2 linked regions of the Homo sapiens genome follow. The protein of the gene in region 2 interacts with the protein of the main gene of each other region in a pairwise test. Each region holds a gene or a part of one and is shown on either strand. Other genes may lie near its edges. The genes, in order: PADI4 and ANXA4.

Region 1 (11,507 bases), on a different chromosome or scaffold from region 2:
AGCTGAGCTCACGGGTGACAAGGGTTTTGGGAAATGAAGAGCCAGATCTTATCTTGGTAATAAAAAAATAACAAGCCCCACCTACATGCTCCCACTTTGGTAGGAATTCCACCTCCTTGCACTGGGCTACTCAGCTACAGGCGCGGGCGGGGAAGGCAGGCTAAAAGGAGGGAGTCTCAAGACAAGAGGGTTTCGGCAGCTGTGCCCCCTCCCCACCCCATGCAGGTACCATCACGCGTTTGATGGGAAACTCCTTCAGGCCTCTGTTCCTTGGAGAGTCGAAGACCACGGGCAGCGTTTTGTGTGGGGCTTGGATGTAGCCGATCTCCATTTCATCCTGTGGGAGTGAGTGGAGAGGAGGCTGTTGCGCGTGCTGCCTGGGTCTTGGTGCCCGACGCCAGGATGGGGGCATGAAACCATCCACTCACTCTCACCCTTGCAGTCAAGGGCACATTCCTATGGGATGTTTGATCTCAGAGAAGGGGCTCAGAAGCGGAGCTTATTGCCCCCTGTTTGCCCAGTGCACGAGAGGCCATGAGCCTGCAGGAGTGCCCTTCCCTCCTACTCCTGGTGGTGCCTGGGCCAGTGCTGGGGACCCCTGGTGAGCAAAACTGAGACCCCTCCTCAAGGTGAGAAAACAAGGGAGCCAGGCAGTGGGCACCAGGGTTAGGAGGTGATGGGGGGTGAGGGGTTGAGGGGTCTGTGGGGACACAGAGGAGGGGCTCCTGATGCAGCTAGGATGGGCCAGAGAAGACCTGTTGGCGCCAGAGCTCGCGGCCTCCTCCCCAAAGGAGGGCAGATAAGACCCAGCCTGGGCCACTGGAGCAGCAGGAGGAGCACGGGGAGGTTTCAGAAATGAATCTGCTGAAAATTCCGCCTCCGCAGGCTTGTATTCTAGCAGGCAGGTGTGATGTTGGACATAATCACTACTATAAGTTACTATTAGGATGAACCAGATGAAAGTTCCACTCTTGCAAATCAAAAATGGCACATATCAGCAATTTCACACAGGTCAACTTGGTATCAAAAAAATGGAATGGCGGCCAGGTGCAGTAACTCATGCCTGTAAGCCCAGCACTTTGGGAGGCTGAGGTGGGTGGATCACCTGAGGTCAGGAGTTCGAGACCAGCCTGACCAACACGGAGAAACCCCATCTCTACTAAAAATACAAAATTAGCCAGGCGTGGTGGCACATGCCTGTAATTACAGCTACTCAGGAGGCTGAGGCAGGAGAATCATTTGAACCCGGGAGGCAGAGGTTGTGATGAGCCGAGATCGAGCCATTGCACTCCAGCCTGGGCAACAAGAGTGAAAAAAAAAAGAAAAGAAAAGATGGAATGGCAAGAAAGGAAGAAAGGATGTTGTGTGGGGGTGAAAAGAAAGAGGGATGAATTCCTGCTGGGGGTGATGGGGGAAATTTATGGACGAGGAGCATTTGTGCTGGGATTCACCGGTATGGATTGGAGATGGGGGATGGGAATGGGGAGATGGGTCCAAGAGACAGCACCGCAGGGGTGCGGCATGGAAGGACAGGGTCCCGAGGCAAAGCAAGGCAGTGGTGGGGAGGGTCAGGGTGCTAGGCTGGATGAGGCCCAGTCTCAGTCCTTGGGGCACTCCTGGCATGATGGGGGAGTGGCACGGAAACAGAGACTGGTAATCATGTGTTTCCAGGCACAGTGGCAGGCTGGCCCCAGGGAAGGGAACCAGGCAGGCTGAGAGGGCCTGGAAACAGACTAAGCAGGAGGAGATGGGAGCCATGGAAAGTGCTGGAGCTGGGGTGTGACCTGCTTTGGTGGCTGGGCCCAAGATGGACAGCCTGGAGGGAGGACCACTTGAGGGGCTGGTTGAGCACCAATCTCCTGAGCTTCACATCATTTCCTGAGGCCACCTGAGTGTTTTCAAGCAGGAAGGTGGCTTCATCTTGGTGACTGCAGTGGGCCTGCAGTGGCCCACAGCAAACGTCAGATGAATCACTTGCTTGAGCCTCCCGGCCCAAGGATCTCTCAGGTTCCTATCTCCCTGTCCATCTAAGGAAGAGTGGCCGGTGAGGCACCAGGCTGAACCCCAGGAGCCCGGGTCCCCCAAGTGTCTCTTGGCCCTCAGGGACAGTCACCCTGCCTGCCCCGCAGGGCACATACCTGCATCCACTGGTCATCCATGTTCTCCTCCTCAGGGCAGATGGTCAGCTTGCACTTGGCTTTCATGGCCAGAGTAGTCACTGACTTCAGGAAGTCCTCATTTTCAAAAATACTAGAGAGAGCAGAAAAGCAGCTCCTTAGTGCTCTGGAATTTGAAGCTCAGCCTGGAAGGATTGGGAGGGACACACAGGTGGCTCAGGGGTCACCTGTGGCCTGAACAGAGGCTCCTGGCACGTCCGGTCCATCTGCTCTTAGCAGGCATTAGCTCATGGAATCCATCTAACAAGTTATGAGGCAGGAACTAGTGGGTACCCCTTCCACCCGTGTATTAGTCCGTTTTCACGCTGCTGATAAAGACATACTTGAGACTGGGAAGAAAAAGAGGTTTAATTGGACTTACAGTTCCACATGGCTGGGGAGGCCATGGTGGGAGGCAAAAGGCACTTCTTACATGGCGGTGGCAAGAGAAAATGAGGAAGAAGAAAAAGGAGAAAAACCTGATAAAACCATCAGATCTCATGAGACTTATTCACTATCATGAGAACAGTATGGGAGAAACTGCCACCATGATTCAAATTATCTCCCACTGGGTCCCTCCCACAACACTTGGGAATTATGGGAGTACATGTCAAGATGAGATTTGGGTGGGGACACAGAACCAAAGCATATCATCCTGCCCCTGGCCCCTCCAAATCCTATATCCTCACATTTCAAAACCAATCATGCCTTCCCAACAGTCCCCCAAAGTCTTAACTCATTTCAGCATTAACCCAAAAGTTCACAATCCAAAATCTCATCTGAGACAGGGCAAGTCCCTTCCTCCTATGAGCCTGTAAAATCAAAAGCAAGCTAGTTACTTCCTAGATACAATGGGGGTACAGGTGTTGGGTAAATACAACCATTCCAAATGGGAGAAATTGGCCAAAACAAGGGGGTTACAGGGCCCATGCAAGTCCAAAATCCAGCAGGGCAGTCAAATTTTAAAGCTCCAAAATGATCTTTGACTCCAGGTCTCACATCCAGGTCATGCTGACACAAGAGGTGGGTTCCCATGGTCTTAGGCAGCTCTGCCCCTGTGGCTTTGCAGGGTATAGCCTCCCTCCTGGTAGGCCAGTTTCACAGGCTGGTGTTGAGTGTCTGTGGCTTTTCCAGGCACACGGTGCAAGCTGTCAGTGGATCTACCCTTCTGGAGTCTGGAGGACAGTGGCCCTCTTCTCACAACTCCACTACGTGGTGTCCCAGTAGGGACTCTGTGTGGGGGCTCCAAACCAACATTTCCCCTCTGCACTGCTGTAGCAGAGGTTTTCCATGAGAACACCACCCCTGCAGCAAACTTCTGCCTGGGCATCTAGGCGTTTCCACACATCTTTGGAAATCAAGGCAGAGGTTCCCAAACCCCAATTCTTGACTTCTGTGCACTTGCAGGCTCAACACCATGTGGAAGCTGCCAAGGCTTGGGGCTTCCACCCTCTGAAGCCACAGCCTGAGCTCTACACTGGCCCCTTTTAGCCATGGCTGGAGCAGCTGGGATGCAGGGCACCAAGTCCCTAGGCTGCACATAGCATGGGGACCCTGGGCCTGGCCTACGAAACCATTTTCTCCTAGGCCTCTGGGCCTGTGACGGGAGGGGCTGCCATGAAGACCTCTGACATGCCCTGGAGACATTTTCCTCATTGCCTTGTGGCTTAACATTAATCTCCTTGTTACTTATGCAAATTTCTGCAGCTGGCTTGAATTTCTCCTCAGAAAATGAGATTTTCTTTTCGATTGCATTGTCAGGCTGCAACTTTTCTGAACTTTTATGCTCTGCTTCCCTTTTAAAACTGGATGCCTTTAACAGCACCCAAGTCACCTCTTGAATGCCTTGCTGCTTAGAAATTTCTTCTGCCAGATACCCTAAATCATCTCTCTCAAGTTCAAAGTTCCACAAATCTCTAGGGCAGGTACAAAATGCCACCAGTCTCTTTGCTAAAACATAACAAGAGTCACCTTTGCTCCGGTTCCCAACAAGTTCCTCATCTCCATCTGAGACCATCTCAGTCTGGATTTCATTGTTCATATCATTATCAGTATTTTTGTCAAAGCCATTCAACAAGTCTCTAGAAAGTTCCAAACTTTCCCACATTTTCCTGTCTTCCTCTGAGCCCTCCAAACCGTTCCAACCTCTGTCTGTTACCCAGTTCCAAAGTTGCTTCCACATTTTGGGTATCTTTTCAGCAACGCCCCCCTCTACTGGTATCAATTTACTGTATTAGTCCATTTTCACGCTGCTGATAAAAACATACCTGAGACTAGGAAGGAAAAGAGGTTTAATTGGACTTACACTCCCACATGGCTGGGGACACCATGGTGGGAGGCAAAAGGCACTTCTTACATGGCGGCGGCAAGAGAAAATGAGCAAGATGCAAAAGTGGAAACCCCTGATAAAACCATCAGATCTCATGAGACTTATTCACTACCATGAGAATGGTATGGGGCAAACCACCTCCATGATTCAAATTATCTCCCACCAGGTCCCTCCCAGAACACGTGGGAATTGTGGGAGTACAATTCAAGATAAGATTTGGGTGGAGACACAGAGCCAAACCATATCAACTTGGGAGAAGACAGAATATGAGTTCACTGTTCAAGGTCACACCACCTGGAACAGTGCTGGGACCGGAATACAGTCCTCACTGGATTCCAGCCTGCGTCCTGACCACATTACCCTCTTACTCTTCTGCCCCTGAAGCTATCAGAAGAGGGGAGGAGAGGGTCTCCTGAGACCCCAGCACACTTGTCAGCGGCTCTCAGACTGCAGGAAGATTGCCTGGGCCTCCCCAAAATGCAGATGGGCCCCGTCCTCAGGGATAAGACCCAGCAGCTCACAGGCAGCCAGAAAGGTGCATTTTATTTAATTTAAATTTAATTTAATTTAATTTAATTTTTAATTTTTATTATTTTTAATTTTCTCAAGACGGAGTCTTGCTCTGTCGCCCAGGCTAGAGTGCAATGGTGCAATCTCGGCTCACTGCAACCTTGGCCTCCTGGGTTCAAGTGATTCTCCTGCCTCAGCCTCCCGAGTAGCTGGGATTACAGGCACATGCCACAACACCTGGCTAATTTTTTGTATTTTTAGTAGAGACGGGGTTTCACCATGTTGGCCAGGCTGGTTATTTTATTTTTGAGATGGAGTCTCACTGTGTTGCCCAGGCTGGAGCGCAGTGGCGCAATCTCAGCTCACTGCAACCTCCGCCTCCAGGGTTCAAGCAATTCTCGTGCCTCGGCCTCCTGAGTAGCTGGATTACAGGCATGCGCCACCACGCCCGGCCAATTTTTGTATTTTTTAGTAGAGACAGGGTTTCACCATGTTGGCTGGGCTGATCTCAAACTTCTGACCTTAAGTGATCCACCTGCCTCAGCCTCCCAAAGTGCTAGGATTACAGGCGTGAGCCACCGTGCCCAGCCCAGAAAGGTGCATTTTAAATGAGTTCCCAGGAGTTTCTGGTGCACAAGGTCCATGGGACACACTCTACAGGCCCCTGGGAGTTAACGTAGCCTCAGCTGCATCAGGGCAGGACAGAGGCAATGACAACAACAGTAGGGAACTTCCCTGCCTTTTTAGAGCCCCCAACAAGCAGCAAGCTCTCAGTGGGCAGGGGAGGGGTGACTGTTTTTCCCATCACACAGTGAGTGCTGCGGATGGAACTCAGGCTCTTTGTTGTCTGGACCCACCCCAGCACCCCAGGACCTCTCACCTGCACGCGTACACCTCCTGCGGGGGCTGGGTGTTGGGGGTCATGATCCAGGGCGCCACGCGGAAGACCACGCTGTCTTGGAACACCACAGCCTCGGGGAGCTCCTGCAGGGGAGGGGGTAAGGGGAAGGAGGGGCTGTCACCGCTGCCAGGGCCCAGCACCTACCACTTCCTGCAGCTGTTTGGAGTCCCCCTGCCCAGCTGGGCTCTGTACCCCTTTCCCTAGCCAGGCCACTGCCTGGAAGCCCAGGCCCCCGATGCAGGGCTGCCTTCTCGGCCTACCAGGTTGGACGTGTCCAGCAGGGAGATGGTGAGGGTAATGAGCCCCGGGAAGTCGGTGTCCGGGAAAGCGAGGGCCTCCACGTAGAAGTCCATGTTGTGCTTTCCACCGGGGACCATCAGGTAGTGAGAGGGCCACTTGGGACCCAAGACTACGCTGCACTTGGAGGACAGTTTGCCCCCTAGGAGAGAGGCAGGGGAGACTCAGGTCTGCGTCCCCACTTCTGAAGACTTTTCCTCCTCTCCTTAGTGCTCCCCAGAAGCCTTTCCCAGGGTCACCACATGGCACCATCAGAGAACCCCTTGCAGCCAAATCTGGCCAGTCCCCTTAGGAGAAAAGGACTGAAGTTCTAGCTGGGACGCTGCTCCCCGGCTGAAGTCCCAGAAGGGTGTGGCAGGGGTGCCTGAGCTATTCCAAACTTTATAGGAAGTCCAGTATACACCATTCCTTCACTCATTCCTGAGCATCTGCTCTAGCCAGATGTCAGCGGGGGACAGGGGCACAGCAGGGGACCAGGGAGACAGAGTCACTGTCCTCCTATCCTCACCCCCAGAGAGTGCACAGTCTTACGGGTGAGTAGGGAGAAGCAGAGATCATGAAAATAGCAGACAGCTGTGATAGAGGGAATCCCTGAGAACTTCCTGGAGGAGGTGATGCCTGGGTGGAGGCAATAAGTTGACCTGTCACCAAATCAGTGTCAGTTTAATCACTTTAAGAATGAAACAGGCCGGGTGTGGTGGCTTACGCCTGTAATCCCAGCACTTTGGGAGGCCGAGGCAGGAGGATCACAAGGTCAGGAGATCCAGACCAGCCTGGCCAACATGGTGAAAGCCCATCTCTACTAAAAACACAAAAAAATTAGCCAGGCATTGTGGTGGATGCCTATAATCACAGCTACTCGGGAGGCTGAGGCAGGAGAATTGCTTGAACCCAGGAGGTGGAGGTTGCAGTGAGTTGAGATTGCGCCACTGCACTCCAGCCTGGCGACAGAGAGAGACTCCATCTCAAAAAAAAAAAAAAAAGAAACAGAGGCTGGGCATGGTGTCTGTAATCCTAGTGCTTGGGGAGGCTGAGGCAAGTGGATCATTTGAGGTCAGGAGTTCGAGACCTGTCTGGCCAACCTGGTGAAATCCCATCTCTACTAAAAATACAAAAATTAGCTGGATGTGGTGGCACATGCTTGTAACCTCAGCTACTGGGGAGGCTGAGACAGGAGAATCTCTGGAACCCAGGAGGTGGAGGCTGCAGTGAGCCAAGATGGCACCACTGCACTCCAGCCGGGGCAACAGAGTGAGACTCTCTCAAAAAAAAAAATTAAAAAAAAAAAAAAAAAGCTTGGAATAGACCAGGCAGAATGATCAGGATCAGAATGATTGTCAGGCCCATGCAAAAAAAAAACCCTCCCATGGCGCTCTCCATCTCCTTCCATCCAGAAGCCAAAGTCAATATACGCCTACCTGACCTCCCCCTTCCCCTCTGCCCTGTCTCTTCCACCCTCATCCCCCACTTTAACCCTTGCACATTCCGCCCCAGCTGCACTAGCCTCCCTGCATTCCTCCAAACCACAGGCATGATCTCACCTCAGGGCCCACGCACTTGCCGTTCCCTCTGCCTGGAACGCCCTTCCCCTAGGTGTCTGTCTGGCTGTTCCTATACCTCCCTCTGCTCACATGGCACCTCATGGGGGACACCTTCCCTGGCCACCCTCTCTCCACACAACCCGAACTCCACTCCTCACTCCACATCCCCTTCCCTGCCGCATTCTTCTACATAGCATGTCACAGCGTTGGACACACTAGGTGTTTTATGTAATTATTTTACCTATAGTTCTCCCAGCCACTAAGATGAAAGCAACACGAGGGCAGGGACTCGGTCACAGTCATGGCTCTGTGCCCCGTGCCTGGGATCAACCTGGCACCTACTTAGTTGCAGGTGCTCGTGGGTCACTGAGAAGTTCCTGATGTCTCTGATTAGCAGGATGTTGCAGAACAAATGATTACATGCCACATGCTGTCAGCTTGCACTCAAAGTCTATAACCAGGAGGTGTGTGTGTGTGTGTGTGTGTGTGTGCGCGCGCGTGTGTGAGAGAGAGAGAAAGAAAAGCAGGGAGCAATAACGAGTCATTTTGTCTGTGTCCTCCAACTGGAAGGTAGTAGACGAGATGTCGTCTGTCTTGCCCACTGCTGCGTCTGCTGTTCTTAGAACTTGGCACATAGTAGGTGCTCAGGATTTATCTGCCACACAGCTGTGTGACAGGATTGTGCCCCGTTGGCCAGGGCAGGAGGGGAACAAAGATGGGGATGACTTACGTGTGGCCTGAAACACCCTCACTTTGTCCATCTCAGACCTGGCCACGTGGAGCACCAGTGTATGGTTTGTGAAGAAGTCCTTGGGGGTCTTCGTGCTCAGGGTCATCAGCGACATGTCCTGCAGGTCTGGGATGAGAAGGGCATTGCCTGAGTCACAGGGCCCTGAGACCGCTGCTGGTTTCCCATAGCCACCTCACCTCCTGGTGGAGCCTCACACCCCACCGCTCCCCTGAGACCTCCCTTTACCATGTTGCCTGGTTTTCTTTTCTTTATGCTATTTTGAGTATTTAAATGATGGTTTTCATTTTGGAATGAGAGCTCATTAAGGTTTTGGTCTCCTCCCACTAGGATGAGCTGGGGATGTAACCTCAGCAAAGCGGGGACCACATTTATTAATATTTTGCTCCTTGCAACGTTCCCTGAATCTTGAACCTAGAAAGCCGAGAACTCCCTAGAACAATGACCAGCAGGCGGCAGGCGCTCGGCTGAGATTTGTGCAATGAACGAGTGAAAGGTTTCTGTGCTGGTCCTGAGCAAGAAGTGGGGTTTGTGAACCAACTTGAACAATAGCCAAGAAGGGGTAGAGGGTGGGGAGAGTGAAGAGATGGTTCCCAAGGGACTGACTGATAGCCAAGGGCTTAAAGGCTTTGCGGTCAATTTGGTTTGAATCTGGGATCTGGGTGGGCTTAGGAAACGGATTTCAGCTTTCTCTGCCTCTGTTTCCTCATCACTAAGACAGGGGCAAGAGTTGTACCCACCGTAGAATGGTTGTGAAGATAAAGTCAGGTGATACACAGTGCTTATACCAGCTCTTGGCACCCCGGGAGTGCCCACAAAGGACAGCTGTTGTGATTATTACCGCATGTCAGGCACTGTACAGAGGCTGTCCCCTGGCATCGGGCCAGGCCAACTACATGCAACTTGAAAATACATCCATTTCTATGTTATTCTAAGAGCTCCCCAGGAAGGCCTGCCAGCCAGAGCCCCTTAGCACCTTCCTCCAGCGCAGGTGGATAATGTTTCCTCACTTCAACCCCGGAGCCACCCCCTTAGCAGCCCAGAGGTTTGCCTGCAGAGATCCTGCATTCCCCACCATCCTCATGCCTCTAAACCTGCTCCGGTGTTGGGACGTCCGGGGTTCAAACCCCGAGTCTGCTACGTGTCAGTGCTGTGACCTTGGGCAAATTGCTTAAGTTCCCCGTGCCTTGGTTTTCCTACCTATAAAGGTTTGTGTTGGAAGATCAGATGAGTTAATCATTCCAAAGTGGTCAGAGTCGTGCCCGGCCTATGGCAGAGGTCTCAGGGCCTGCTCTGATATGAGTTTGGGAATGAAAAGCTTTCATTTCGAAGGATTTCAGGCTCCAGGTTTGACCTAAGAGCGTTTAGGTTGGGCAGCAGGGTGAGGCATGGAAACCAGGGCCTGTAGGAGGCATCAGGAGACAGCACTGGCCTCAGCTCTTCCCTGACCGCTGCGTGAGCTTGGGGAGGTCACTTGACCCCCGAGGGCCTTTGCCCATTGCTTCACCTATAAAACAGATTTGCCAACAAGAAGATGCTTTCAATAACCCTTATTTCAGAGGGCCGTCACCAGGTTCAGGCTATGTGGGCAAAAGGGCTTTATAAAAAGCCCTTCCCGTTAGCTAGCAAATGCTCTTTACCTTCGCTGTCAAGCACTTCATCATCCTCGCAGTCCATGGCAGAAGATTCGAGATTGTCTCTGTCACAGTTCACCAGCAGGATGGCACCCTGTCCACAAGGGCCCCAGGTCCAGGTCCTCTGGACACCAGCAGGGAAGAGTCATGCTCAGAAACTAGCATAGAGCCCTCCAACTCTTGCAAGAGGCATAGCAACTCCCCATCACCTCTTTTTTAAAATTTATTTATTTATTTATTATTTTTTTGAGACGGAGTCTCCCTCTGCTGCCAGGCTGGAGTGCAGTGGCGTGATCTTGGCTCACTGCAACCTCCACCCCCCAGGTTGAAGTGATTCTCCTGCCTCAGCCTCCTGAGTAGCTGGTACTATAGGCGCATGCCACCACACCTGGCTAATTTTTGTATTTTTAGTAGAGATGGGATTTCACCATGTTGGCCAGGATGGCTCAATCTCTTGACCTCATGATCCATCCTCCTCGGCCTCCCAAAGTGCTGGGATTACAGGCATGAGCCACCACGCCCGGCCCCCATCACTTCTTTAACCCAGTGCAGTTTACACATCTTGCTTCCACATCAATTAATTATTTGATCTCAGGAGTGGATTTTTGCCTTTTACTCCAAAAGTCACAACCAAATTCACCCAAAACACAATTCATCCATTTAAAAAAAGGAGCCCAAGACAGTCACATGGATTTTAACAGCTTTTAAGAAATGTTGGCTGGGCGCAGTGGCTCACACCTGTAATCCCAGCACTTTGGGAGGCTGAGGCAGGCAGATCACCTGAGGTCAGGAGTTCAAGACCAGCCTGGCCAACATGGCGAAACGCTGTCTCTACTAAAAATACAAAAATTAGCTGGGCGTGGAGGCATGCACCTGTAATTGCAGCTACTCAGGAGGCTGAGGTAGGAGAATCACTTGAACCTGGGAGGCGGAGGTTGCGGTGAACCGCCCCTGCACTCCAGCCTGGGAGACAGAGCATGACTCCATCTCAATAAATAAATAAATAAATACATAAATACATAAATAAATAAATAAAATGTTGAGCTTGACAAACCAAATGCAGCTAAATATGTATGTCAATATTCTAATCTAAATAGTTACTATTATGTGAACTCTTAATTACTCATTCAGCAAAGTGTGGTACTATTCTTAGCAGCCAGTTAATATCTGCCTAGAGATTAAAGCACATTAAGCAGCCCCACCCTGTAGGGATCTAATAGTGATGGCGCCTCCCTTCGCGGGAGAGCGTTTGCCCCTGGGAAATGACTGCATTTCGGGAGGGATACAGGGACAGATTCTACTCCTAGAGTTGTAATTTGTCTTCCCACTTTTGCTGACCCCACAAAGGATCTTCATCTTTTTACAGGGCACAGCCCCCAGTGCACACCAGC
Region 2 (11,507 bases):
ACACATCGAGTGAGTTTGGAGCAGGAGTTTAATAGGCAAAAGAACAGAACAGCTCACAGTCACAGAGAGGGGTCCCGAGCAGGTTGCTAAGCAGTAGTAAAAATGTCAGGGTTTTTATAAATGGTCTAGGGAGGAGGGGCCTCATGAGGAGGGGATGTCTTATCCTCTTAGGGCCTGATGGTTTAGCTGCGACCAAGTGTGCTATCTATATAGAGCAGAATTTTTTTTATCAGCTTTTATCCCATTCCCTGACCACATAGGCTGACTCTTAGTCTGTGTTTCTTTGTCTTGCTTATCTGGGAGGGAGAGTTTCTGTGTCTGTTCCCATACATCTTCTTGCAGCTGCAGGCATCCGCCCCATGAGTCTGCTTTTAGTTTCTCTATCTTAGTGCACCTAAAGGGAAAGGAATGTGCTTATTAAGACCCACTGTTTTACTGGGGCCCATTGTATAAGTGTGAAGTTTGGCAATTACCCAGGAGACTTCCACCCCTTCTTCTGTGCTTGAGCTGTCTTATCTGTATTTTACAGCCTGAACTTTCAGGTTACTTGTTGTTAGAAGAGAAGTGATTTTTTTTAACTGTGTGTGGTTAGAAAGGGAGCTATTTTTGAGCTGCTTTTTGTTAAAAGGAAAGTTTTCTGCTGGGGACTCACTTTACCCTAAATGTCTACCTAAATAATTTCTTTTTGCCTCCTATAACACTGGTAGTGTCTTCCAGCATGCTACCCTCCAGTTAGCTCCTTGGGGGCCAACACCTTCATGCTGGGTAGGTACAGTGATTCTATGTGCACCACAAACTACCTGGCCTAGCCTCTGCCCCCAAGACCTTGTCTCAGTAGACTTTTGGCCAGAGAAGTATCCCCTGGTTCTTAGCTGCTATTTAGAATCTCCTTGAGATTTGGGTAAAAACACTTGACCATGAGACCATCTTTCTATCCAAAAAGAATTCATTTTACTCAGCCTCAATGTTGCTAACAGTAACAACAACCGTAGCAATAATAGAAAATGTTTATTAAGCTCTACTATGTGTCAGACATAGAGATAGATGCTTTCCATGGGTTATCTGTTTTAATCCTGACAGAAGCTTGTCTTACTGTTGAGAAGGTAAAGTATAGTGAGTGAGGCTGGCTGACTTGCCCACGGTCTCAGAACTATTAAGTGGTATATTCAGGATTCTAGATAATTCCTAGAACACTTTCCTTTCATCTTTGCATGATCAGCTGCCTCAAGTCTGATTCCAGAGCTGGAGTTCAAGCCACTGTTCTATGCTGCTGCCCATCTCTGAAGAGAACATTGTCCTGAATCTATGTATCTTCTTCTTTTCCCTTTTTCATAAAAAGAGAAAGGCATAGGACCCACCTTTTTTTTCAGTTTATCCTAATTCTTTGGTTACAAGGACACCATAATTCAAAATGTAGCCCATGTTACATTCAGAATTATCAGCATAAAGGGTGAGGAGACATTTGGCACAACCAACCCCTTTTCAGTGCCTGTTATGTGTGGGCCAATGCAAGGCAGACTGTTGGAGAAGACAAGGATTATAATCCCTAGTTCTTGTGTTCAAATAGTCTATGAATACTAGCACAGCTAAGGCATGCACAAAAATAACTATGATTAATTCATAATATAACAGTGACAGGAGGGGCACAAATAAGATCCCACTGGGGTTCAAAGAGAAGAGATCACATTTCACTTGGGGGCATCGGGCAAAGCTTCTTGGAGGATGTAGATGTTAAAATGGACCTTGGGAGATGATTGAGTTTCTGTAAACAGAATTAAGGGACAAGGTGTTTCAGGTGAATGGAATGGCATGTGCGGAGGTCTAGGGGAGTCATGGTAAATCCACAGAAAAGTGTCTTGCAGCAGTGAAGTGGCCTCGTCTGGGGTGACACCCATGGTTTGTTGTCTCACGGCCACAGATATCAAGGACGTAGACACACAAAGAGTGAGGTTAAGAGTGGAAGTTTAATAGGGAAAAGAAAGAGACTAGCTCTCTGCTACAGAGAGGGATTCCAGAAAAATGGGTTACCAATTCACGGTGAAATGCAGAGGGGTTTATAGATGAGCTGTGGCAGGCACTGGGGGTTGGGGGGCTGATGTCTGATCTACATAGGGCACCAAAAACCAGTTAGAAACAGGTGTGCTATCTGCATAGGGCATGAATCTCTGACAGTCCCTACCCCAGTCTTTTATTATGCAGGTGGGTTTTCAGCCTGAGCTGTACTGTATTGGTCATTTCTTTCTTACTGTACACATGCTAACAAAAAAGGGAAGGTGGAGTTTCCATGGTGGACATGCCTGGCCCCCAGGTAGCCCTTTTCTGTTGGTACAGCGGCCAGCATTCCCTTGTGCAAGCTTTCAGTTTCCTTATCTACGTTTGTAGCTTGATTTTTCAGGCTGCTCTTTGTTAGAAAAAAAAATGATTTTGGGGGCTGCTTTTTGTTACAAGGGAAGTTCTGCCAAGGACTCTTTTGCCCTCACTATCTGTTTTTTGTTTTTTTTTTCTTTTTTGAGATGGGGCCTCGCTCTGTCACTCAGGCTGTGGCATGCACTGGCATGATCTTGGCTCACTGCAACCTCCACCTCCCGGGTTCAAGTGATTCTCATGCCTCAGCCTCCTGAGTAGCTGGAATTACAGGCCCCCACCACCATACCTGGCTAACTTTTATATTTTAATAGAGACAAGGTTTTACCATGTTGGCCAGGCTGGTCTTGAACTCCTGACCTCAAGTGATCCACCCACCCCAGCCTCCCAAAGTGCTAGGATTACAGGCATGAGCTACCACACCCGACCTGCCCTCACTATCTGCTTAAACAATTTCTTTCTATCTCCTGTATCAGCAGGAGGTACTTGCAAAGCAGAAGTAGGCTGGTTGGGAGCTTTCTGAGAAAGCAGGTACCAGAAGGAGGTTTTAGGGGTGCTACTGAGAAAGCACCCATAAGAATCACAGACATGCGGGAATGACCCACAGGCACTGGCTGGGAAACAACATATGACAGAATCATGATGCTAAATGGAGGGGGTTAAGAGGACATATAAACCAATAGACTGGTAATGAAGGGGGTCAGGAGCCTGGAGTGCAGCACAGTTGGGTAAAGCACAATATTTCAAGAGCTGAGTCCATGAATTTGGCTGCCTAGTGTCCTTTTATGTGGCTATTTACAATAGTGAATGGGATACTGTAGAGAGTCTCAAATGTCAGGCTGCAGTGCCTAAAGTAAATCCAGCAGATGATGGGGAGCCATTGTGTATTTCTGAGCAGGGGAGAGACATTGTGAGAGTTTTTCTTTTTACAAAAATGAATCTGGCAAGACTCTGGGAAGACCAACCAGGAGTTAAGAATACTAGTTAGCAGACATCTGCACTTGTCTAAGAAGAAACCCTGAAATCTTGAATTGGAATGGTTGTGATAGGAAATAAAAAGAGTGAAAGAATGCAAAAGAGGCTGTAAAGCAACATTTTGCATGACCGTGGACTTGAATGAAGAGGAAAGGAGAGGGTAAAAAAATCAAAGCTATTGGGCTGGGTGCAGTGGCTCACGCCTGTAATCCCAGCACTTTGGGAGGCCTAGGTGGGCAGAGCACAAGGTCAAAAGATCGAGACCATTCTGGCCAACAAGGTGAAACCCCGTCTCTACTAAAAACACAAAAATTAGCTGGGCGTGGTGGCGTGCACCTGTAGTCCCAGCTACTGGGGAGGCTGAGGCAGGAGAATCGCTTGAACCCGGGAGGCAGAGGTTGCAGTGAGCCGAGATGGCACCACTGCACTACAGACTGGCCACAGAGCAAGACTCTGTCTCAAAAAAAAAAAAAAAAATTGAATCTATTTTGAGGATTTCAGCTTGGCTTGACTGGGGGGAAGAGTGATCCCTTTCACAGAAACAGGGAATGAACAAAAGGTAATGAACCCTCTCTGCCCCTTCCACACCCCCTCCTAGCTGAGAGTGCCAAGGGAGAAATTGATTGTTATATGGATTGTCCTCTCCTTTTTAAAAATAGGAACACGGCTGGGCATGATGGCTCATGCCTGTAATCTCAGCACTTTGGGAGGCTGAGGCAGGTGGATCGCCTGAGGTCAGGAGTTCAAGACCAGCCTGGTCAACATGGTGAAACCCATCTCTAGTAAAAAATACAAAAAAAAATTAGCCAGGCATGGTGGCAGGCACCTGTAATCCCAGCTACTAGGGAGGCTGAGGCAGGAGAATTGCTTGAACCTGGGAGGGAGAGGGAGTGAGCTGGACTGCACTCCAGCCCGGGTGACAGAGCGAAACTCCATCTCAAAAAAAGAAAAAAAAAAAAGGAACAGAAAGTAGGTCCCCAAGGTATGTAAACTTAAAGTTCTATAGCTTCCTCTCCACACCTCACATCTTTTTGCATCTCTAACCTTGCCAAGGATAACTAAAGTTTGGCTGTATTTTTTCATTTCTCCCTGAAATATTTTCAATAGAATCATTTCTGAAACCCATTCCAACCCCCCATACAGCACAAACAACGAGGAAACAGAAGATTCACCAAACATTTATGAACAGCCAGCTGTTATAAAGACAAGGGACCAATCTGAAAAATCAGAATAAAGTCTCCTTGTTAAAGCTGCTGCAAGAAACAGGCAAGCAAAACTTAGAACATTTTTAATTTGTAATTTTTGCTTAAAGTTTTGGTAAGATGTTGTATCATGGTAATTTGTCAGCAGTTCTAAAAGGGAACCATTTGTGTTCAGGAAAGATAGCTTAGAAGTGCAAAACATAGTTCCAGATTTTAAAACACAGTGAATGCAGTAACAGCCAACTTAAACTCTGCAAAATGCCAAATTGGTGAATTAACAGACAAGTTTGAATTGTTTCAAAACTCAGAGGAGATGATAAAAAGATAAAAACAAAAAAAAAGGCAAGAATATGGAAGAGAGAGAGAGGAGATTCAAAAGACATGAAAAGAATTCTAGAGGAGATGGCTGGGCGTGGTGTCTCACACATGTAACCCCAGCACTTTGGGAGGCCGAGGAGGGCAGATCATTTGAGGTCAGGAGCTCAAGACCAGCCTGGTCAACATAGTGAAACCCTGTCTCTACTAAAAACACAAAAATTCGCTGGGGGTGGTGGCACAGCCCTGTAATCCCAGCTACTCAGGAGGCTGAGGCAGGAGAATCGCTTGAACCCAGGAGGCGGAGGTTGCAGTGAGCTGAGATCGCGCCATTGCACTCCAGCCTGGGTGACAGAGTGAGACTTTCTCTCAAAAAAAAAAAAAAAAAAAAAATATTCTAGAGGAGAGAAAAAATTACTCCAGCCAACATTTATTAAATGTTTAGTAAGTGCTAGGCATTTAATTATATTAACACTTGCAGCAGCCTATCGAGGGAAATCACTGTCATCATTCACATTTGCAGATAAGGAAACTAATGTTTAGAAAGTTAACCATTTTCTTCAGTAGTAAACAGCTAATTAAAGGAGAGGCTAAGTCCCGAACCTAGCATCTGTTTCCCAAAAAGTAGACAAACCCTCTGAATAAGGGCCTCTTTTCTTAGAAAGCCCTCTGCATGTGTTTGGGTAACTCCAATGTCCACAGAGGAACCTGCTTTCTCATTCCTCTCTCAAATCACACTTACCTGCTGTCTCCCTTCTTCCCCCAGGCACCGATGAAGACGCCATTATTAGCGTCCTTGCCTACCGCAACACCGCCCAGCGCCAGGAGATCAGGACAGCCTACAAGAGCACCATCGGCAGGGTAGGCCACAGTCTTTCCTGCTCTGTCTGGCTGACTTCGCAGCAACAGGAAGCAGGGCCTCTTCCTGATCTAGGTTCCCGAAGTGACCTTGTGTTTTAAAAGATCGATCCTTTGTCTTGTTTAAAGATGTTCTTGAGGCCAGGTGTGGTGGGTCACACCTGTAATCCCAGCACTTTGGGAGACCGAGGTGGGTGGATCACTTGAGGCCAGGAGTTTGAGACCAACCTGGCCAACATGGTGAAACCCCATCTCTCCTTAAAAAATACAAAAATTAGCCGGGCATGGTGCTGAGCACCTGTAATCCTAGCTACTTTGTAGGTTGAGGCAGGAGAATTGCTTGAACCAGGAGGTGGAGGTTGCAGTGAGCCAAGATCATGCCACTTCACTCCAGCCTGGGCAACAGAGACAGACTCCATCTCAAAAAAAAAAAAAAAAAAAAAAAAAAGAATAGCGATTCAGCTCCTTCTTCGTCAATTGATCTTAAACAAGTTCTTAAACTCTCTGACCCATTCCAGGAGGAAATGTGAATAAACATCTTTAGAATTTGGTCCATTTTCCAAATAATTATATTTGGAAACTATATCTCAGGAATTGAGCCTTAAGAAATAGTCATGAATGATCACAAAGATACAACTAAATGCCTTATGTATATAACAGTAGAAAAATAGAAACAGGTGACTAGTTAAAGAAATTAGGCTGGGTGTGGTGGCTCACACCTGTAATCCTAGCACTTTGGGAGGCCGAGGCGAGTGGATCACTTGAGGTCAGGAGTTCGAGACCAGCCTGACCAACATGGTGAAACCCCGTCTCTACTAAAAATACAAAAAAATTAGCTGGGCATGGTGGTGGGCACCTGTAATCCCAGCTACTTGGGAGACTGAGGCAGGAGAATCGCTTGAATCCAGGAGGCGGAGTCTGCAGTGAGTCAAGATCGTGCCACTGCGCTCCAGCCTAGGCAACAGAGCAAGACTCCATCTAAAAAAAAAAAAAAAAGAAATTATGTTGCACCTATCTATAGAAATCTCCACAGCTGCTAAAAAGGTTATCAGTGAATATTGACTTGGAAGTATATTCAAGACATATTGTTAAGTAGGCAAATACATTTACATCGGTGTCTACAAACATATTCACCTCAAAGTTCCTTTACCTCTTAAATTTTTTAGGACTTTTGGTTTTGTGGGTTATATCTTTTGATATTTGCCCTATTAGAAACTAAAACTGAGGGCATTTAAAAATAGATATTTGTTAACTTAGTAAAAATAATAAGTATATTGTATGTTACTGTAAATAACATTTTAATGAAAAATAGCTATATATCCCAAAACGAAAAAACATTTAGTGAGAAGATTGGCATTGTTTTACATTTTGCAGATCTCTTTAATGTCTGGCTTAATGGAAGACAGATGGCTTCTCATATCTATTTCTACTTCAATTTGTTATGATATGTGGTTTTGGTTGGGGTATATGAAGAAAATCTGGCTTGTACAGATATGTACTTGAAAATGGGGGGAGTATTTGAACAGACAGTTGTTGATGCACAGACAATGTCAAATAGCCTTAGGAAAACCCCACTGTATGCTTGTGGAAGAATGACAGTGAAAAGGCAAATAACATCTGAGTGTTATTCTGAGGATAGTTTTGACTTGCAGGCCCCTTGAAAGGGTCTTGGAGACCCCAGACATCCCTGGACCACACCTGGAGAGTAGCTGGTCTAATTTGCTATAGCAGTTAAGCGGAGCTACTTTCTTGCATTGCAGGACTTGATAGACGACCTGAAGTCAGAACTGAGTGGCAACTTCGAGCAGGTGATTGTGGGGATGATGACGCCCACGGTGCTGTATGACGTGCAAGAGCTGCGAAGGGCCATGAAGGTCTGTGCTCTTCCTCTCGTGCTCTTGGTGCTGTTGGTGCAAACGCTGATGTGCTTTCTTAAGAAACTGTCACCCAATAAGAAAGACATGGAAGCAACCTAAACGCCCATCAATGGTAGACTGGATAAAGAAAATGTGGTACATGTACACCATGGAATAGCTGTAAAAAGGAACAAGATCATGTCCTCTGGAGGAACATGGATGGAGCTGGAGGTCATTGTCCTTAGCAAACTAAGGCAGGAACAGAAAATCAAATACCATATGTTTTCACTTACAAGTGGGAGCTAAATGATGAAAACACATGGACACATAGAGGGGAACAACACACACTGGGGCCTGTTGGAGGATGGAGGGTGGGAGGAGGGAGAGGATCAGGAAAAATAACTAATGGGTACTAGGCTTAATACCTGGGTAATGAAATAATCTGTACAACAAACCCCCATGACACAAGTTTATCTATATAACAAACCTGCACATGTACCCCTGCACTTAAAGTAAAAGTTAAATTTTTTTAAAAAAGAAAGAAACTATGACCAAGGCCTTCTGAGAGTAGCAGGTGTAAAGTATAGGAGATTTTCCTTCATTTACGACAACTTGAAAACATCATTACTTTACATTATACCAATTATAATTTAAAAGTTCTTTTCCAAAAAGTTAGGGAATCATTTGCTCCTTCCTGTGGCTCAATGGGGAGTGATTATAATTGTCGCTTTTAGTACAGCTCTAGAGACTTTTAGCTATCTCTAGACAGCTAACTACTTTTGAGATATGTAACTTTATGACTGACACTTTAGGGGCCTCCAGGTCTACTATAGGCTTACTTCTGGCAAAAGAGTTCCTGGCTTCCCTAGATGACGTACCCACTGTGCCCTAGCCTGGTCTGCCAAATTTTAATGACCAAGTATGTAATGCAAATATAAATGGTCCCCACCTTAGGATGGTTCTACTTAAAAATTTTCAGTGTATTGTACTCCTCATCATAAGTCGAGGAGTACAATTATCCTCCTCAACCATGTCAATAAATACTCAGACTTGTGGAAGGTTCTGGGCCAGGCTCTGGGAAAGCAAAGAGGTGACAAAGTCTTTGCCAGAAAATTCTGCCCTTCAGAGGAAGAGAGCAGAAGAGGTCAAGGAAAAATTAAGTCCCCAGAGGGCAGAAACCATACCTACCCGGGCACAGTAACGAACACATAATAAACAGCCTAGAAATGTTTGTTATTACTCATAATTGTTACGGCAAACACTTTGGGTTTCGGGTGGGACAATAAAAGTGAACAAACCCTGTTGTTAGAACGCAGTGGATTGTCTTTATTCTCTGCAGATTCATGACAGATGTATTCCTTCTGTGTCTGGGCCTCAGCTTTGTAAACTGGCTCATATAGCCCTGTCCTCTGGTTTCTTGTTTAGGGAGCCGGCACTGATGAGGGCTGCCTAATTGAGATCCTGGCCTCCCGGACCCCTGAGGAGATCCGGCGCATAAGCCAAACCTACCAGCAGCGTACGTGACATCCGCAGTGGCCCTGGCTGAGGTTTCGCTGTGATTAGAGAATGAGGGTAGCAGCGGGTTGTTGTTTGCTGATTAGACTTTTCACAGAACGCTGAGCATGAGGGATCCTCGGTGCCAAGCTCTGCTTCGAGGGAGATCCCTGTTTAGCCAAATGGCGGTCTGTTGGCTCCTTAAGATTTCTCAGGTGAAGATGACACTCTATTTTGCCTACCCAGTGCAGTATTTTATTACCCTAAAAGTTGGAAAGTTGTTCCTTATTATCAGACAAAGAATCTAAGGTACTTGTTCAAAAGTGGTGGCACCAGCAGATCTTAGCATTCCAAGGAATGGTCTGGAGGGGCCGTCTGGCCCAAATTCTTCCCTTCAGACTGGACTGTACGTCCTCCAGCCAAATCAGAATGACAGCCATTCACTCCCCCTTAGAGACCTCCAGAGGGTGATACGTATGAAGTGCCTTTAAAAAATGCCTGACTTTTTGCCCTAAGAATATAACTAAAAATGCACAGAGGTTCAGATCTCACAGTGTTTATTCAGCATTGTCTACATTAGCTAAAAATGCCCAAGAGTAGCAGATTGTCTAAACAAAATATTATACACTTACACAATGAACTATTATGTAGTCATTAAAACTTATATTAAAGAGTATTTTTTTCTTTTATTTAGCCTTTTTTTTTGAGACAGGGTCTCACTCTGTTGCCCAGGCTGGAATGCAATGGCCCCATCATAGCTCACTGCAACCTCGACCTCCTGGGCTTCAGCAACCCACCCACTGCAGCCTTCTGAGTAGCTGGGACCACAGGTGTGCGCCACCACACCCAGCTAATTTTTGTATTTTTTGTAGAGATGGGGTTTCGCCATGCTGCCCAGGCTGGTCTCAAACTCCTGGGCCCAAGCAATCTGCCCACCTCCGCCTCCCGAAGTGCTGGGATTACAGATGTGAGCCACTACACCTGGCCAAGAATACTATTAAAATATTTATTAAATGGTTTGGTATATGTAAGTGAAAAAGACAAGCCATAAAATAGTATGCTATGATCCCATTTTTAAAAAATTAACACAGTTAATAACACAGTATTTTTTAAATAAATGAAAATAATTTGTGCATGTGGGGGAAAATGAGGAAGGATATTTACAGAAATGTTGTCAATGATTCTTATTTCTGGGTGATTAGACTGCAGTGGAGTTCCTCGCCTTGCCCCTTCTTTTTACTTATTTGTTTTTTCCTAAGCCTTCTGTGGTCAACATGTGTTACCTTTATAGAAAGAAAACAACCACAATAAGAGCTTTGTGGGAAGTGTTCAGAGCAGGAGATTCTAAACCTTAGGAGTCTGGATTTAGCAACCCAATCCCCACATCTGCCCAATGAGGGTTTTCTTCCCTGAGGGCTGTGAAGGGCTGGAGCTTCTCTTTTCGTTTTTGCTTTTTAAAAATTAATTATGAAGAAGTGATTTTTAATTTCTTGCTGAAGCTCCCCCTGCCTATTTTTTTTGACACAGGATCTCGCTCTGTGGCCCAGGCTGGAGTGCAGTGGCATGGTCATGGCTCACTGCAGCCTTGACCTCCCCAGGCTGAGATGATCCTCCCACCTCAGCCTCCCCTGTAGCTGGTACTACAAGCATGCGCCAACATACCCAGCTAATTTTTGTATTTTTTGTAGAGATGGGGGTTCACCATGTTGCCCAGGCTGGTCTCGAACTCCTGGATTCAAGCAGTCTGCCCTCCTCAGCCTCCCAAAGTGTTAGGATTACAGGCATGAGCCACTGCGCTCGGCCGTGGAGCTTCTCATGGATAACCTGTCAGAACCTCCCAAGTGAGAGACGTGGCAGAGAGGCATATGCTAGGATTTGCATTTGACAGCGCTCCAACCCCAGCCCCACCTCAAAGCTGGGTTCAGAAGCTCCTATCTGGTTGCTTTCCATCAGTGAAGCAGCAGAGGCTGCTCCACAGCTGTGGTTCCCTCTGTGTCACTGAGAACCACGTTCAGATCGGACCCCTGGGTGGCAGGAAGCACAGAGGGAGGATTTCAGACCCAGCTTTTTCAACCCCACATTTTAAGAAACAGGAATATCTTGGCTGGGTGCGGTGGCTCACGCCTACAATCCCAGAACTTTGGGAGGCCAAGGCAGGCGGATCACCTGAGGTCAGGAGTTCACGACCAGCCTGGCCAAAATGACAGAACCCTGTCTGTACTAAAAATACAAAAATTAGCTGGGCATAGTGGGGCACACCTGTAATCCCAGCTACTTGGGAGGCTGAGGCAGGAGAATTGCATGAACCCAGGAGGCAGAGGTTGCAGTGAGCTGAGATGGTGCCACTGCACTCCAGACTCCATCCAGCCTGGGCAACAGAATGAGACTCCATCTCAAAAGAAACAAAACAAAAACAGGAATATCGTGTGACAGGATAAGCTGA

What was found.
Region 1: the proteins of ANXA4 (region 2) and PADI4 interact in binary tests that used the Homo sapiens proteins (3 or more experiments, as listed by UniProt).

Annotation. Positions count from the first base shown.
Region 1 is NC_000001.11:17,336,771-17,348,277, reverse strand, and holds part of PADI4 (protein-arginine deiminase type-4), read right to left. Parts: intron 10,241-11,507; coding exon 10,123-10,240; intron 8,591-10,122; coding exon 8,465-8,590; intron 6,336-8,464; coding exon 6,157-6,335; intron 5,980-6,156; coding exon 5,876-5,979; intron 2,251-5,875; coding exon 2,139-2,250; intron 338-2,138; coding exon 230-337; intron 1-229. UniProt on the Homo sapiens protein: Catalyzes the citrullination/deimination of arginine residues of proteins such as histones, thereby playing a key role in histone code and regulation of stem cell maintenance.
Region 2 is NC_000002.12:69,798,911-69,810,417, forward strand, and holds part of ANXA4 (annexin A4), read left to right. Parts: exon of another isoform or gene 1-88; intron 89-4,482; exon of another isoform or gene 4,483-4,605; intron 4,606-5,622; coding exon 5,623-5,717; intron 5,718-7,474; coding exon 7,475-7,588; intron 7,589-8,995; coding exon 8,996-9,086; intron 9,087-11,507. UniProt on the Homo sapiens protein: Calcium/phospholipid-binding protein which promotes membrane fusion and is involved in exocytosis.